4 linked regions of the Homo sapiens genome follow. The protein of the gene in region 2 purifies or fractionates together with the protein of the main gene of each other region. This does not show direct contact. Each region holds a gene or a part of one and is shown on either strand. Other genes may lie near its edges. The genes, in order: ANKRD52, BRSK1, ANKRD28 and PPP6R3.

Region 1 (3,567 bases), on a different chromosome or scaffold from region 2:
ATCCGTTGGGGAGGGAGGGGGTCCCTGGGACGCCCCCCTCCCCTCAGCCCACCCTTGACAAGGGTGGCAAGACATTCAGGGTATACAACTAAAAGATGGGTAAGACTGTGAATAAAGCAAACTTGAGTAGGGGAGGGAGGCTGAAGGATCCCCCCTCAGGGGAGACCCTGTACTGTGTAAACGAAGCCTGTCCAGTTCTCAGGGGACAATACTGATGGCAGCCAAACTGGGCAAGGATGCAGTGTGGGGGCGGAGGGGGCATGACCTCTATTCAAGTTCTGTGTCTTGGCCCCTGGCTGAGGTATTGAGTGTGAGGAAGGGAACACTGGGCTGCAGGAGTGGGTCCAACTGTCCAGGAGGCTGCACTAGGAGATGGGTGGACAGAGCACTTAAAGGGACCAGGGCCAAATTCAATGCTACATTTAGAGAGAAAACTGCCCCCTCTTCACTCCAGCCCAGTTTGGCTTTTGGGGTGCGACTTTAGAAATCTTATCAGTGCAGCCCCCAGCTCAATCCCATCTTTCCTCCCTGCTGGGAAGGCAGGGACCAAGCCCCAGTACCTATTCATCTCTCTCTAGGTCAGAGCTTCTTCCTCACACTGGAGGGGAAGCCTGGGTCCCGAGTAGCCACGGTCCCTTGTCGGCCCTGCCCCTCCTACCATCTTTGGCTTCAGATCAGGAGTGACTGGGGCAGTGGGTACTCTTGGACATAACGGAAGGTGGAGGCAGATAGGGAGCACAGATAAACTATGGGCTTGGCGGCACAGGAGGAAGAACATGGTCCCTCCCTCCATATACATGCAAACACATGCCTGAAACACAGTGGACATACTAGGGCTGTGGTTTTGAAATGGGCAGGAAATTAATTTGTTTCTTCCCCTAAAGGATAAAACGCTTACTTAAAAATTCATGACAAGCCTCAAAGTTCAAGGGAAGGAGAGCCAGGGCAGGAATGACCACAGGCTCTGCCCTCCCAAAAGAAGATAAAAGAAAGAAGCAAGGTTAAAGTGCGTGGTTAGGGGCCAGGCTAGGAGTGGGAGGGAATGGGGAGGGGGCAGGCTGTGGGGGCAGAACCAGCCCTTGATTTGCATATGAGGAGCCAGGGGAGAGTGCAGGATTGGGGCCCAGGTACAGTAGTTGCTGCTTCAAGTGTTTTGCATTTGAACTTTAGGGGTGATAGGGTACAGAAGTGGGGAAAAAGCTCCAGGCCCCAGTGCTAAATATCCTCCCCCCTCATCCTCTAGCTGCCCCTGAAGGGGGGAGGGGGACACCCCCAGAGTGCTCACACAGTACCAGAAATTAAGGCTTCTCACTGCTGCGGGGATGGAGGGACCGGCCGAGCAGGGAGGCAGTGATGGGTATGGAAGAAGAGGGGATCTGCCTGGCAGTAGGGGCAGGGGAGAAGGGGGACACAGAGAGGAGTCCCCAGGGAAGAGTCGGGGGAGCTGGCAGCAGAAAGAGGGAACCAAGAGATGGAGTCAAAGAGTGGGGGAGCCAGGCATTTAGCAATCATTTTGGGACACTTGGCAGAAGGGGTCGCCCTGGGGGTACCAAGGGCCTGGGGTGCTCCCTGTCAGTCCCAGACCCCTGCCAGGCCAAGATGGTGTGGCAAAGGGGTGAGCAGCTGCTCCCCAGGGCTTCCTTCCCCTCCGCCCCCTCCACCCAGTCGTGTTCTCCTTTAAAGTGCCCTAAATGTTTAGACTTTTTCTAAATAAATAGAATTAGATATCAAGCCACCGGCGGGGGAGGGACACTGGAGGGGGCTACTCAGAGTAGCAGCCATCTAACCCAATGGCGCCGGGCCGCTCCTGGCTGTAGGGGCAGGAGGCCCCATGGGGCAGGGCGCCGCAGCCACCCACCGTCTTGGCGGCTGCAATGCTGCAGTTCTTGAGCAGGCTGAAGCTGAAAGGACTGACGGCGTCCTTGGGTGGGAAAGGCTTCATGGTGGAAAGGATCAAGGCCAGGCAGTCTGCCACATCTTTGTTGGGGGCACAGGCCAGTGCTGGGGTGTGACCTGCAGGGCCAAGGGGGAGAACTGAGGCATAGAGTCCTGTATCCTAGCCAGCCTCCCCCAAGCCCTGAAGTCTCTTCTCTGTGGAGGGAGCCAAGGCAGGCAGGTACCCAGCAGCGGCAGAATCCAAGGGTGACGAGGGCCCAGGAAGGCTGACAGGCAGATTCTCTAAGTACGGGTTAAAGGGCGGGCATGGGAGTCAAAGCCTAGGGTGTGGAGTCCTCCTGACCCTGCAGGCTCCCCTCTGAGACTCCAGAGTACTGGTGTGGGCTCCCTGCTCTGAAGAGTTCCCTTGGGAAGAAAATCCCATGTATAGCAAGATTAAGAAGTCACCTCCTGAAGAATGTCCCTGACCCCAAACCCAAGAGAGGCATGGGGCCCCAGACCCCACCCACCTTCTTCATCCACAGCCAGCACTGTGGCCCCATGACTCAGCAGGGCCTGTACCACAGAAGCTAGACCATTCCGGGCAGCAATGTGGAGTGGCCTTGGAAAAAAGGAAAAAGAAGGAGCTTGATGCTAAGCTGCCCTTCCACCTCCAGACAGGGTGGCAAGGGTGCTGAACAAATACAATGGGCTCCAGAGAGCCTCTGAACAGCGGCCACTCTTTCATCACCCACTGGCCTCCCCCAGCCAGGAGCCCCCTTCCCCAGGCACTCACATCTGCAGCGCACTGTTGGTAGCATTGATAAGGCCAAGGTCTTGGGTTTCTGCCAGGATCATGAGGGCACATTTCTCATGGCCCTGAGGGAGGGGAACAGAGAGTGGAGACTTGTGAAGTAGAAATGTGGCAGGGTGCAGGGCAGGAGTTGGGGAGAGTAACAGGAGGACAAACAGCTGCCCAACCAGTCGGATAGGCTGGACAATCCTCACTTCTGCCCCAGTCCCCTCTGCAACCGAGACTTACCTCTCTTCATCAAGCTCTGCCCCTTATGCAGTCCCCCAATCACTTCAGGTAAGTACCTTGCTACAAGCCAAGTGGAGGGCCGTGTTCTTGTTCTCATCCAACACAGTAAGGTCTGCCTTCCCTCGATACAGCAGAAATTCTACGAGAGAAATGTGATAGAGGGACTGACCCCTCCCTCCAGAGCAGTAGCCATCCTGGCTCTCCACTTTGCATCCCGTCTGCAGATGGCGAGACATCCAAAGACAACCCTCTTGCTTTCTGAACCCCAGCCCCAGCCAGCCTCCACAGGCAGGGCTGACCCATCCTGCAAATGCCCCAGGGGAGCTCCTCCCTTCCACAAGTGGCCCCTACACACCCACAGCAGCGGTCTGCCCGTTCTCAGCCGCCGTCATGAGCGCAGTGCGGCCAGTGTGGTCAGTGGCGTTCACCTCAGCTTGATGCTGCAGCAGCATCCGGAGCCCAGAGACATTGTCCGCGAAGGCAGCGGCGTGAAGGGGGGTCCTGTAAGGCAGGGATCAGGGTAGATTAAAATAGGGAAGAGTATACTGCCCAAGCAGAAAGGGGAAGCCAGAGGCAACTGGGATTCTTCCCAAGTCTTCCATCACTCACCGTCCTTTGGCATCTCGGCTGTTCACAATCTTGGCACCCAG
Region 2 (3,567 bases):
AGACTTGCATCTAGAATAAACAATTCTTTTTTTCTTTGTTAAATTTTCCCCCTTGTTCTTGCTGTCATCATACAGAATAATTTTTAGGAATAATTTTGTTCCTAGAGTAATCTCTTGTTCCTAGAATAAAAAATTGTTACAAATCAATAATAAAAAGACTAAATCAAATTTTAAAAAATAACTGAATTAAAGATGGGCAAAGAGGCCGGGAGTGGTGGCTCACGCCTGTAATCCTAGCACTTTAGGAGGCCTAGGCGGGCAGATCACCTGAGGTCAAGAGTTCGAGACCAGCCTGGCCAACATGGTGAAACCCCGACTTTACTAAAAAAATACAAAATTAGCCAGGTGTAGTGGTGTGCACCTGTAATCCCAGCTACTCCGGAGGCTGAGGCAGGAGAATCAATTGAACCTGGGAGGCAGAGGTTGTAGTGAGCCAAGATCACACCATTGCACTCCTGCTGGGCAACAAGAGCAAAACTCCATCTCAAAAACAAAACAAAACAATACAAAAAGGGCCATGTATCGTATGATTCCATTTATATAAAACGTCTAGAATAGGTAAATCCATACAGACAGAACATAGGTTGCCGGGGGCTGGGGGCAGGAGGGGAATGGGGAGTGACTGCTTACTTAATGGGTACAGGGTGAGAAAATGTTCTAAAATTCCACAGTGGCAGATGTATACCACTGCAAATATATCAAAAACCACTGAATTACACACTCTAAAAGGAGGAATTTTCTGGTGTATGAGTTATGTCTCAATGGGATAAAGGTTTGGGGGCCGACCACATGGCTTTTGCTCAGCCCTCCACATGCCCCCAAGGGCCTGTCTGCTGGGCAGCCCTCAGCCCCTCCTCCCCCTCAAGCTGCCCACTCACCAGATGGAGTAGCTGTGGCAGAAGTCCAGCGCAGACACAATCTGGCGGAAGAACTTTCGGGCCTCCTTGGGCGTCAGTCTCCCCTTCTTTACCAGGTAGTCGAATAGCTCACCCCCCGAGACGTGCTCCAGAACCAGGTACCTAAAGGATATAGAGGGGGCAGAGGGCTGGAAGGGGCATGTGGAGGACCAAAGGGCCTGGTCTCCCACTTCCACTGGCTCCTGGTGGCAGAGAACTCCAATTCCCATGATCCTTGGGAGAAAGAGACTCCAATTCCCATGGGTCCCTGGGAGGAAGAGACTCCAGTTTCCATTAATTCCTGGGAGGAAGAGATTCCAGTTCCCATCACTCCCTGGGAGGAAGTGACTCCAGTTTCCACCAGCCTCTAGGAAACCAAACTCAAGTCCCATTAGCCCTGGGCAGTAGAGCCTCCCATGTCAGCTTCAGAGGGGAACCAACACTTTGACTCATAATGGTTTCAGGAGATAAGGCGACTCTATTAGCACCTGAAGGTCAAAGACCCCAATTCTTATAGGACCCTGGGAAGTGAAGATACCCCTACTCCTATTAGCCCCTAGAAAGCCAAGCCTCTAATTCCCTCTGGAGTGAGGAAACTCAAATTTGAATTCATTTTCGAGTATTAACGATTGCAAGGTTGCACCAGTCCAAGCCAGCTTCTGTGAGGCAATAGACGACAACTCCCATCAGCGCCTAGAAGTTAAAAACCCCCACTTCTGGCCAGACACGGTGGCTTATGCCTGTAATCCCAGCACTTTGGGAGGCCGAAGTGGGTGGATCACTTGAGATCAGGAGTTCAAGACCAGCCTGACCAACATGGTGAAACCCCGTCTCTACTAAAAATACAAAATTAGCTGGGCGTGGTGGTGCGTGCCTGTAATCCCAGCCACTCGGGAGGCTGACGCAGGAGAATCACTTGAACCCAGGAGGTGGAGGTTGTGGTGAGCCGAGATCGAGCCATTGCACTCCAGCCTGGGCAACAAGAGCAAAACTCTGTCTCAAAAAAACAAAACAACAAAAAAACCCCCAAACTCCCTTCCCATAAGCCTCTGGGACACGGGGTTCCAGTTTCCATCAACCATTTTTTTTTGTTGTTGTTGTTGTTTGGAGTTTTTTTTTTTTTTTTTTTGAGACAGAGTCTTGCTCTGTCGCCCACGCTGGAATGCAGTGGCACGATCTTGGCTCACTGCAGCCTCTGCCTCCCAGGTTCAAGCAATTCTCCCACCTCAGCCTCCCAAGTAGGTAGGACTACAGGTGTACCACCACACTCAGCTAATTTTTGTATTTTTTGTAGAGACGGGGTTTTGCCATGTTGCTCAGGCTGGTCTCGAGCTCTTCAAGAAATCCGCCCATCTTGGCCTCCCAAAGTGTTGAGATTACAGGCATGAGCCACCGCGCCTGGCCCCAAAAGCTCAATTTCTATGAGCTCTTAGATGGCTGGGATTCCTGCCCGAAGCATAAACTCCCATGGCCCTGCCTCCCTACGCCAAGAGTGGAGTGGGAGCGACCATGCACCGGTCCGGACAATAGCCCCTCCCTACCACCACACCTGGGAAAGCCTGAGAGCAGGTCCCATGAGCGCCGGGCAGACAGCTTCCCGTGTGGTGAAACCTGCGCCAGCATCGACGGACCTGATGTCAGTTCATCCGGGGGACTGGGTGCCGGGGGGGAACACGAGGGCTGTCCCCTCTCCGGCTTCCCAGCCCAGCTGTCCTTTGGGTCACCAGAGTTTGGACAAAGAGGCCCATTCTCTGGAGTCTGGACAGCTGGACCCCCACCCCCATCCTTCCTGGCGGGTGATTGACTTTGAGATAGTGACTCAGACCTCCTAAGGCGGCCCATTGTTGGGGTGTCCAGCCACGGCACCCGAAGTTATGCCGGGGGAGGAGGGGGGCTCTCCAGTGCTCCAGAGTTGGGGTTTGGGAAGATCCTTTGGGCTTTGCTAGGCCCCTTGCCTTACAAACAGGAGGCATCTGCCCATAGCAGATTGGGTCTGGTCGAGGGCACCCTGCTTGTCTAGCAGAGCGCATTCCATGCAGTGCCACAGGGCGAGGAGCTGGAGCTGGGGACACGGTAGGAGGATGGTTGCCCTTGGCCTCAGGCCCAACACAGCGTGACAACAGTGGGGTTCCCTGTGTGTCAGGGGCTTCCCTGTGCAACAGGCAAGGAACTGGGCCTTCAGCGGTCCAGCCTGGAGAGCTGCAGGTCCCCCAGGTCCCCCTAGGCCCTGTTTCTGGAGAAGTCCCACCCTGGTAACCTGGAGAGGGAGGATGGGGTAGGGCTGGGTGTCTATAAATACCTACAAATATTTCTTGTTCTCGTAGACGTCGTGGAGCTTGAGGACATGTGGGTGTTCGATGAGCTTCAGGATGGCGATCTCCCGCTCCACCTGAGGGTCAAGAGGGGTGGGGACACGGGAAAAGAGGTCAGCACGGCCCCGCCCCTGCCCTCAGCCCCGGAGGCCCCCCCACCCGCAGGCACACTGCAGCAGGCGCACACACCTTCATCAGCACCGACTCCGACAGCTTCTCCCGGTTCACGATCTTGATGGCGACCTTCTGACCCGTGATGCAGTGGACCCCGAGTTTAACCAGCCCTGCAGGAGCAGGGTGAAAATGTGGGGTGTTCCGCCGGGTCCCCTTCGTCCCCAGCGCCTATGTCCCCCCTTGGC
Region 3 (3,567 bases), on a different chromosome or scaffold from region 2:
GGTTTCTACGGCCTTTGACTGTTAAAGCTGGAATAAATGTGAATTCCTCACAGTAAAACATGACAGGCAGACCGCCTACCCAGCACCCATGCCCTATCATCTGCCTCTAAAAGAATGCTCATTTTATTTAGCTCTCTGGCAATGTGGTCAGGAAGAGTGCCTTGACTCCAGCAAAGGGATGATACCATGATTAGACCAAGTCAATCACAAGAACCCCATTCTCCTCTGACAGTGATCAGTTTTAAGGTGAGCAGCACAGGAACCAGGTCTGACTACTGAGATGCCGATAAGTCTAGAGGCTGCTGGGAAATACTTTTATCTTTAATAATGAAAAGCCCCCATTCCTTCCTGATTTTAGATGCAATCCTTAAAAGCAGCAGCAATAATCCCACAACATGAATGCAAATGTAAGAGAATAACAGAATTTAATCCAGAGCTCTGACACCGTTGTAGAATCAACCAACCCTGGAACTGCATCTGCCTGATATTGCTTTTTTTTTTTTTTTGAGACAGAATCTCGCTCTGTCGCCCAGGCTGGAGTGTAGTGGTGTGATCTTGGCTCACTGCAACTTCCGCCTCCTGGGTTCAAGCAATTCTCTGCCTCAGCCTCCCAAGTAGCTGGGATTACAGGCGCCTGCCACCACACCCGGCGATTTTTTTTGTATTTTTAGGAGAGATGAGGTTTCACCATCTAGGCATGGCTGGTCTTGAACTCCTGACCTCATGATCCACCCACCTCGGCCTCCCAAAGTGCTGGGATTACAGGCATGAGCCACCGTGCCCAGCCTGCCTTTCGACATTGTATATGAGACACTAAACCCCTTAAGCTATTTTCAGTAGGGTACTCTGTTATTTATGGCTGAAATAATTTCAAATGATATATATATATATACATACAGTACAAGAAAAATGATCCATCTAAAGAATGCATGTGTTAAGTCCAAATGCATAAAATGGGCAAGGGTACAAGTAGAAGTAGTCCAAAGAAAAGAGCTTTTGAAGTAAGTTAAATCCTCTGCAAAATTCAGGTCCTGTTAATATATACAAAGTCTGAAGTTTAAAGAAATACATTAGAAAAAAATGTATCTTGCATATGATACAGAAAAGAACGTCTATCACTATTTCTTCTAATTAAAAGATGACAAAACTAGCAAAAGCAAGCTAGGTGCTGAATATTCCACAGTATGTTCCCACAGTTATATTAAATACTAATAGTTATTAAACTTGTGGCTTAAATCACCTCTCCTACCCTAGTCCAATCTGTATGCTGCACTCTGCCAGCAGCTCTCACAGCTTAGCAACAAAAAACAGGGTCGTAACACTTGGGGATGTTCAAGAAGAACTTGTTTGGCCCATCATTTTTCAAATCAGTTCATTTACACTCAGTTCACAGTCGCTACTGATGAATGTTTGTGTCATCTAAGTTCAATACCCAAACAGCAAGCACAGCATCTCTGTGGGAAATGACTGGTAAACCTCCAGGAAAAAAAACCCTCAGTGTTCTTTTCATGGCTTATAGATGCTCTCTATAGACCTCCAAATTTGAAAGGCATCTATAGATACAAGGCTTGCATTTATTGAATAGATAGGCACTAAGAGTAACCTGTGGTTCTTTTTGTGGGTAGGATTTATGCTGAACTATATGGCATTGGTTAACTACTTCTAAGGGACTGGCTAATGTCTCAGTTCAATATTTACCTATTGAGAGTGCAACCACTCCATGCAAGCTTTAAATTAGTTCTGCATATGATCTGCAATTATAATTTTTCTAGCTATAGATTAATATTTTTAAAATGTACTTATTTTTCACAGATCCCATCCAGTGTACAAAATTGATTTTTATTTTATATTTTAGGAACAGGGTTTCATCATGTTGCCTAGAGTGCAATGAAACTGAACTCAAGTGACCCTCTTGCCTCAGCCTCCCAAGTTAGGTGGGAATACAGGCATGCGCCACCAAGTTTGGCTTTGCAAAGTGATATATAACTTCACTCTTTTTCAGAATAAGGTAACAGCAAGTAATGCATTTTAACCTCTTGTTCAAACCATATAGTAGTGTATATATGTTTATTAGAGGTTCTAATGTATTATTAAAATATTTTTCTCAGCCCCACTTGAACATCTGATAGCTTTGAAGGGCGGCTCTGGGAGTAACAGTGGGTGTTATCAATAGTCTTCTAAAATGTAAGCTTCCCAAAGGACTAGAAAAAAAATCCAAGACATATATTCAAATGTATTCTTAAGGATCACTCTATAAAAATAGAGAGTTGTGAATCTGCATCTGCCAGTGATACGCAGTGGGTAGCAAGTCATTTAACTGACTTGGTTATAGACCTTCGTATTTTAACGTATCTGCTACATCATAATATCACAATATGGAATAGTTCTTGCATAAAGTGCTCTGTAAAGCCTGTCTGCATAAATGTTTAATGCAGTACACTGGTAAAATAAGTCAAAACGTGTATCACTTGTTAAATGAAAGATTATACCAATCCAAAATAACTTCTACCAGAAAGAAATAAATACTGCATTGTTTTGTTGATAAAGTGTTTCAGAAGTTAGATTATTACATAAACCCAACTTCTAAGGCAGATAATGTTTTAAGTGATGATAGTCTTGTTGTTGGTATTCCCTGAGAATACAATCATTTTACCACTTAAAGTCAAAAATTTCCCCAGACAGTTGTAGCTCTTGGTAATCTCCTTGGGTCTGGAAACTTTTGAAGAGCCAAGCTGACATTTTTCAGCTCTTTGGGCCACTGGGTTTTAGAGGGAGAAGTCCAGAGATAAGTCCAGGCTGTAGCACAACCTTCAAAACAACACAGGCGCCTCTCTGATCCTGCCCTACCTAAGCTTTGACGGTAGTGGGGCTTCTGTCTGGAGAAATGCCTTCAAAGAGTAACCAGTAGGTGTGACATAGAATTGGCCAATGTTAGCATCTGCAGCCATCATCAAAAGATGAATCCACTGCCACTGCCCCCTGAGGGGCCCCTAAAATTGCAGAAGGTATCAGCAAGGAGGCTGCCAAGGTTGTTTTCCAAGAGAGGCCACAGGAGGAAGGGAGCTACTTGGGGGCACTTACATCTTTTGTGCAGAGGAGCTTCTTTTCATGAGAGCAGGACAGTTTTAATGACTTCTTAAACACTTGTGTGGGACAGGCTGGAGCATGAGGGAGGTTTTAAGCCAGGCACAAAGTTAGTTTCAAACACTAGTTAATAAATCTATTTTTATTTCCTTTTTCACACAGAAGCTGGTAGTCTAGGACCTACATGTAAACAACTTTATATGAATATTTTTTGTGCTTGGTTTACTTGGGTTGATATAATACACTGTATTTAAGTTCCCTGAACACTGGGATACTCCTAATGTTTATGAATGACGGAGGCTTTGTAAATTCATTTGTGTGAATAAAGTTATTTGGTGAGGTCAAATAATCCATATATGATTTGAAAAAAAAAAAGGTCAAAATTTTAAAGACAATTAACTGGAAATATTATATATCAGAAATTGAAAAAAAGTATTGGATAGAAGTTATAAATAAATCAAGCATAATATCTGGCATACCTGC
Region 4 (3,567 bases), on a different chromosome or scaffold from region 2:
CTACAAAAATCCCTGGTATCATCCTTTACTCCTCTCTCACACCCACTCCAATCTGCCAGCAAATCCTGTCTGCTCTTCCTTTTCAAGAAGGATCCAGCAGCCAACCTCTTCTCACTCCCACCCCTGCTCCCCTTCAGTCCCAGCTGCCATTACTGCTCTCCTGGATCACTGCCAGAGCGTCCAACCTCCCTCCAGCAGCACAGGACAGTGGGACCTTTAGAAACCACATCATGTGACACCTCTGCTCAAAACACCAAATGACTTACCCATCTCACTCAGAGAAAAAGACAAAATCTTAACAATGGCCAGTGTGACCTACGCCCTCCCCCCATCTCCCCCATCCATCTGGCCTACCCTCCTCCCACTCTCCCTCAGGCTCCTCACTCCAGCCACACTGGCCTCCGCTGCCCCTCCAACACAGCAGACATGCCTCCTTCTTAGCACCTTGTCCTGCTGACCCTCCGCCTATAATGCTGCCCCTACCCCACTGCCACCCACAGCCTTGTGGCTGGGTCCCTCCACTCCTTCTGTTGACTGCTGTATTTCAATCTGCAGACAAGCACTCCCCCACACCCCACCTCTCCTGGTTTACTTTTCTCCCTGTTTGTATTACCATATGGCTACTGTATCTTTCATTTATCTGTTAACTGTCTTTCCCCTACCAAAATGTAAGCTCCATGAAAACAAGGACTTTTCATCTGCTTTGCTTACTGTTAACATGCCCAGCAGTAGAACAGTGTTTAAGACATGGTAAGTACTCAAACATCTGAATAAAAGGATCACAGAAACAATGTTGAGTGGGGGCAAAAAAAGAACAAAGTGACTCCATTTACATTGTCTAAAGGAATGCAAAAATGAAGTCACATTATATAAGGATACATTTATACTTTGCAACACCATAAAGTAAAGCAGAAAAATGATACATACAAGGTATTTGCCTTGGGGAGGTCAGAAAGAGGGAAGTGGTGAGACGAGGACACAGGGAGCCAAAGGTATGGCAACCTTCTATTTCCTAAGCTGGTTAGTGGGTACACAAGTGTCAGTTCTAATGTTTAATATCTGGGCACATGCTGATATATACTCTTTGAATTCATAGTCCAATTACAAGTTAAAATAAAAAAACAGATTAGAGGCCAGGCATGGTAGTTCACACCTGTTATCTCAGCACTTTGGGAAAACAAGGTGGGAGGACTGCTTGAGCCCAGGAGTTCAAGACCAGCCTGGGCAACATCGGAAGATCTTGTCTCTACAAGAAAAAAAAAAAAAAAATTACCTGGGTGTAGTAGCATGTGCCTACAGTCCCAGCTACTCGGGAGGCTGAGGTGAGAGAATCGTTTCAGCCAGGGAGGTCAGTCAAGGCTGCAGTGAGCTATACTGCACTCCAGCCTGGGACTCTATCTCAAAAAAATAAACAAAAACCACTGCACTCTAGCCTGGGATTACACCACTGCACTCCAGATTACACCACTGCACTCTAGCCTGGGACTCTATCTCAAAAAGATAAACAAAGACAAAACAGATTAGAGCAGGCATTGACAAACTACAACCCACAGGCCAAATCCAACTCTCTGTCTGCTTTTATAAGTAAAGTCCTATTGGAAGACAGCCACCTTCATTTGTTTACAGATTGGCTATGGCTGCTTTCACACTACAAAAGCAGAGATGAGTCCTTGCAGAGACCATTTAGCCTCCAATGCCTAAAATATTTACTAACTGGTCCTTTACAGAAAAAATCTGCAAACCCTCAATAGAGCTGTCTGGTTATAATGCAGAATTTGTAAAGAAATTAAGTGCAAAATCAAAAAGATCCAATCATCTGTTAACATATATTGATCCTTCAAGGCGTATGTGATTATCCACACTATGTTGAAAAAATGATTCTATATAAAATGTGAGACTCCACAGCAAAGTTACCCTACAACGTCCTGTGTGCCAGAAAAGAATAAACTTAAAAGATGTTTTAGAAAGCAAACTGCAAACCTCAAATTTATGATCTCTACTCCACCAGCAGAAATTATGTTATATATGTTCTAATGTTATATTCATATTCACAGTTATATACATTAAAACATATATAACATACTCCAAATTTGGAGGAAGAAAATTTGCATATCAACACTAACTCTGTAACCTCCCCAACACTGAAACCACCATCACCCTGACTTCCGCAGAGCAGCTGGTTAGACCTCGAGGCCTCTCTATGATCCTATAATACTCCATTTCTCTCCTTGAGATCATTCACTGCACCTTGGAGGTGTTTCTGTACTTTTGTTACAAAATACCATACCTATGATGGGAGGATCTCATAGCTGCTGAGTCCATCTAAGGGTGTAATAACAAGAAGTCCACAGTGAAAAGGGACAGTCATTCACAGAGTGTTGTTTACTCAGAAGGGGCAGGGTCTCACTTGCAGACAAAAGAGACAGATGAGACCTGTCCATTGTCCAAAGGCAATACAAACCCTGTGTATCTCTATGTCAACAAAAAAGAACTCCTCAACTACTATACAGTGACAAAAAACTGACACATACTACTACCAAAAATAAAATTCCAGACGTTAACCACTTATTCTGAATTCTAAGTAAAATCCAGCTGTGATGTCACTCTTGAAACAAATAGCACTTAAAACTGTGGTCTGGAACATCACAATCCTATGGAATCACCGGGGCTGAGATTTCTCTGCTCCTTCTGGTTCCATTCTTCTGCATGGCCTCCATTTTTCTGTAAGAATAAATGCGCTGGGCGTGGTGGCTCATGCCTGTAATTTCAACACTTTGGGAGGCCAAGACGGGCGGATCACTAGAGGTCAGGAGTTTGAGACCAGCCTGGCCAACATGGTGAAACTCCATCTCTACTAAAAATAAAAAATTAGCTGGGTGTGATGGCACACGCCTGTAGTCCCAGCTACTCGGGAGGCTGAGGCAGGAGAATCGCTTCAACCTGTAAGGCGGAGGTTGCAGTGAGCCGAGATCGCGCCACTACACTCCAGCCTGGGCGACAGACTGAGAGTCCATCTCAAAAAAATAAATAAATAGAAAATAAATGACGTCTAAGTGTTGTTGCAGCCCAAAACCATGATTCTCACGAATGGAAGCCTCAGTCAATTGTCAAGACTAGTCAGTGTTCCTCCCGCTACGCCCATCTGAGGACCAAAGCCCAACCAATCTGACCAGCCAACCATGGAGCAGGCAGTGTGAACTGCCCTGATTAGGGTCTCAGTGTGACATGTGTTCTCAGGCAAGCTCTTTTTTCTCAAAGTGTGTCTCTGCCACCAGAATTTTTGTTCAGATTTACATGTAGGTATAGGAAACCCAAGGCTCCAACTAACAGTCCCACACAGCTTTCTCCAAGTCTGTCTGACTCAACATCAGTCTGCAGCCGTTTTAGTCCTGCTCTCTAATGTTCCTAAAAACAATCTTTCATTCATCTTTTCTTGGGCCATCAGATTTCACGGTAGTCAATCTCTGGGGAATTCAAATCACTTCAAGTCACTATGTATTTCCACTGTAAGAAATTCTGGAACTAATAATCCCGTGGTTTTCCCCAGAGTTACTGTGAAGTACAAAA

Evidence for each region.
Region 1: the proteins of BRSK1 (region 2) and ANKRD52 purify together in Homo sapiens (affinity purification with mass spectrometry; one large-scale study listed by BioGRID and IntAct). This does not show direct contact.
Region 3: the proteins of BRSK1 (region 2) and ANKRD28 purify together in Homo sapiens (affinity purification with mass spectrometry; one large-scale study listed by BioGRID and IntAct). This does not show direct contact.
Region 4: the proteins of BRSK1 (region 2) and PPP6R3 purify together in Homo sapiens (affinity purification with mass spectrometry, with the first as the bait; one large-scale study listed by BioGRID). This does not show direct contact.

The regions. Positions count from the first base shown.
Region 1 is NC_000012.12:56,241,380-56,244,946, forward strand, and holds part of ANKRD52 (serine/threonine-protein phosphatase 6 regulatory ankyrin repeat subunit C), read right to left. Parts: coding exon 3,527-3,567; intron 3,419-3,526; coding exon 3,273-3,418; intron 3,057-3,272; coding exon 2,974-3,056; intron 2,755-2,973; coding exon 2,672-2,754; intron 2,498-2,671; coding exon 2,406-2,497; intron 2,014-2,405; coding exon 1,763-2,013; 3' UTR 1-1,762. UniProt on the Homo sapiens protein: Putative regulatory subunit of protein phosphatase 6 (PP6) that may be involved in the recognition of phosphoprotein substrates.
Region 2 is NC_000019.10:55,286,932-55,290,498, reverse strand, and holds part of BRSK1 (serine/threonine-protein kinase BRSK1), read right to left. Parts: intron 3,493-3,567; coding exon 3,398-3,492; intron 3,286-3,397; coding exon 3,200-3,285; intron 1,020-3,199; coding exon 879-1,019; intron 1-878. UniProt on the Homo sapiens protein: Serine/threonine-protein kinase that plays a key role in polarization of neurons and centrosome duplication. Phosphorylates CDC25B, CDC25C, MAPT/TAU, RIMS1, TUBG1, TUBG2 and WEE1.
Region 3 is NC_000003.12:15,686,456-15,690,022, forward strand, and holds part of ANKRD28 (serine/threonine-protein phosphatase 6 regulatory ankyrin repeat subunit A), read right to left. Parts: coding exon 3,564-3,567; intron 3,434-3,563; exon of another isoform or gene 1,892-3,433; coding exon of another isoform or gene 1,856-1,891; intron 1-1,855. UniProt on the Homo sapiens protein: Regulatory subunit of protein phosphatase 6 (PP6) that may be involved in the recognition of phosphoprotein substrates. Involved in the PP6-mediated dephosphorylation of NFKBIE opposing its degradation in response to TNF-alpha.
Region 4 is NC_000011.10:68,467,243-68,470,809, reverse strand, and holds part of PPP6R3 (serine/threonine-protein phosphatase 6 regulatory subunit 3), read right to left. Parts: intron 1-3,567.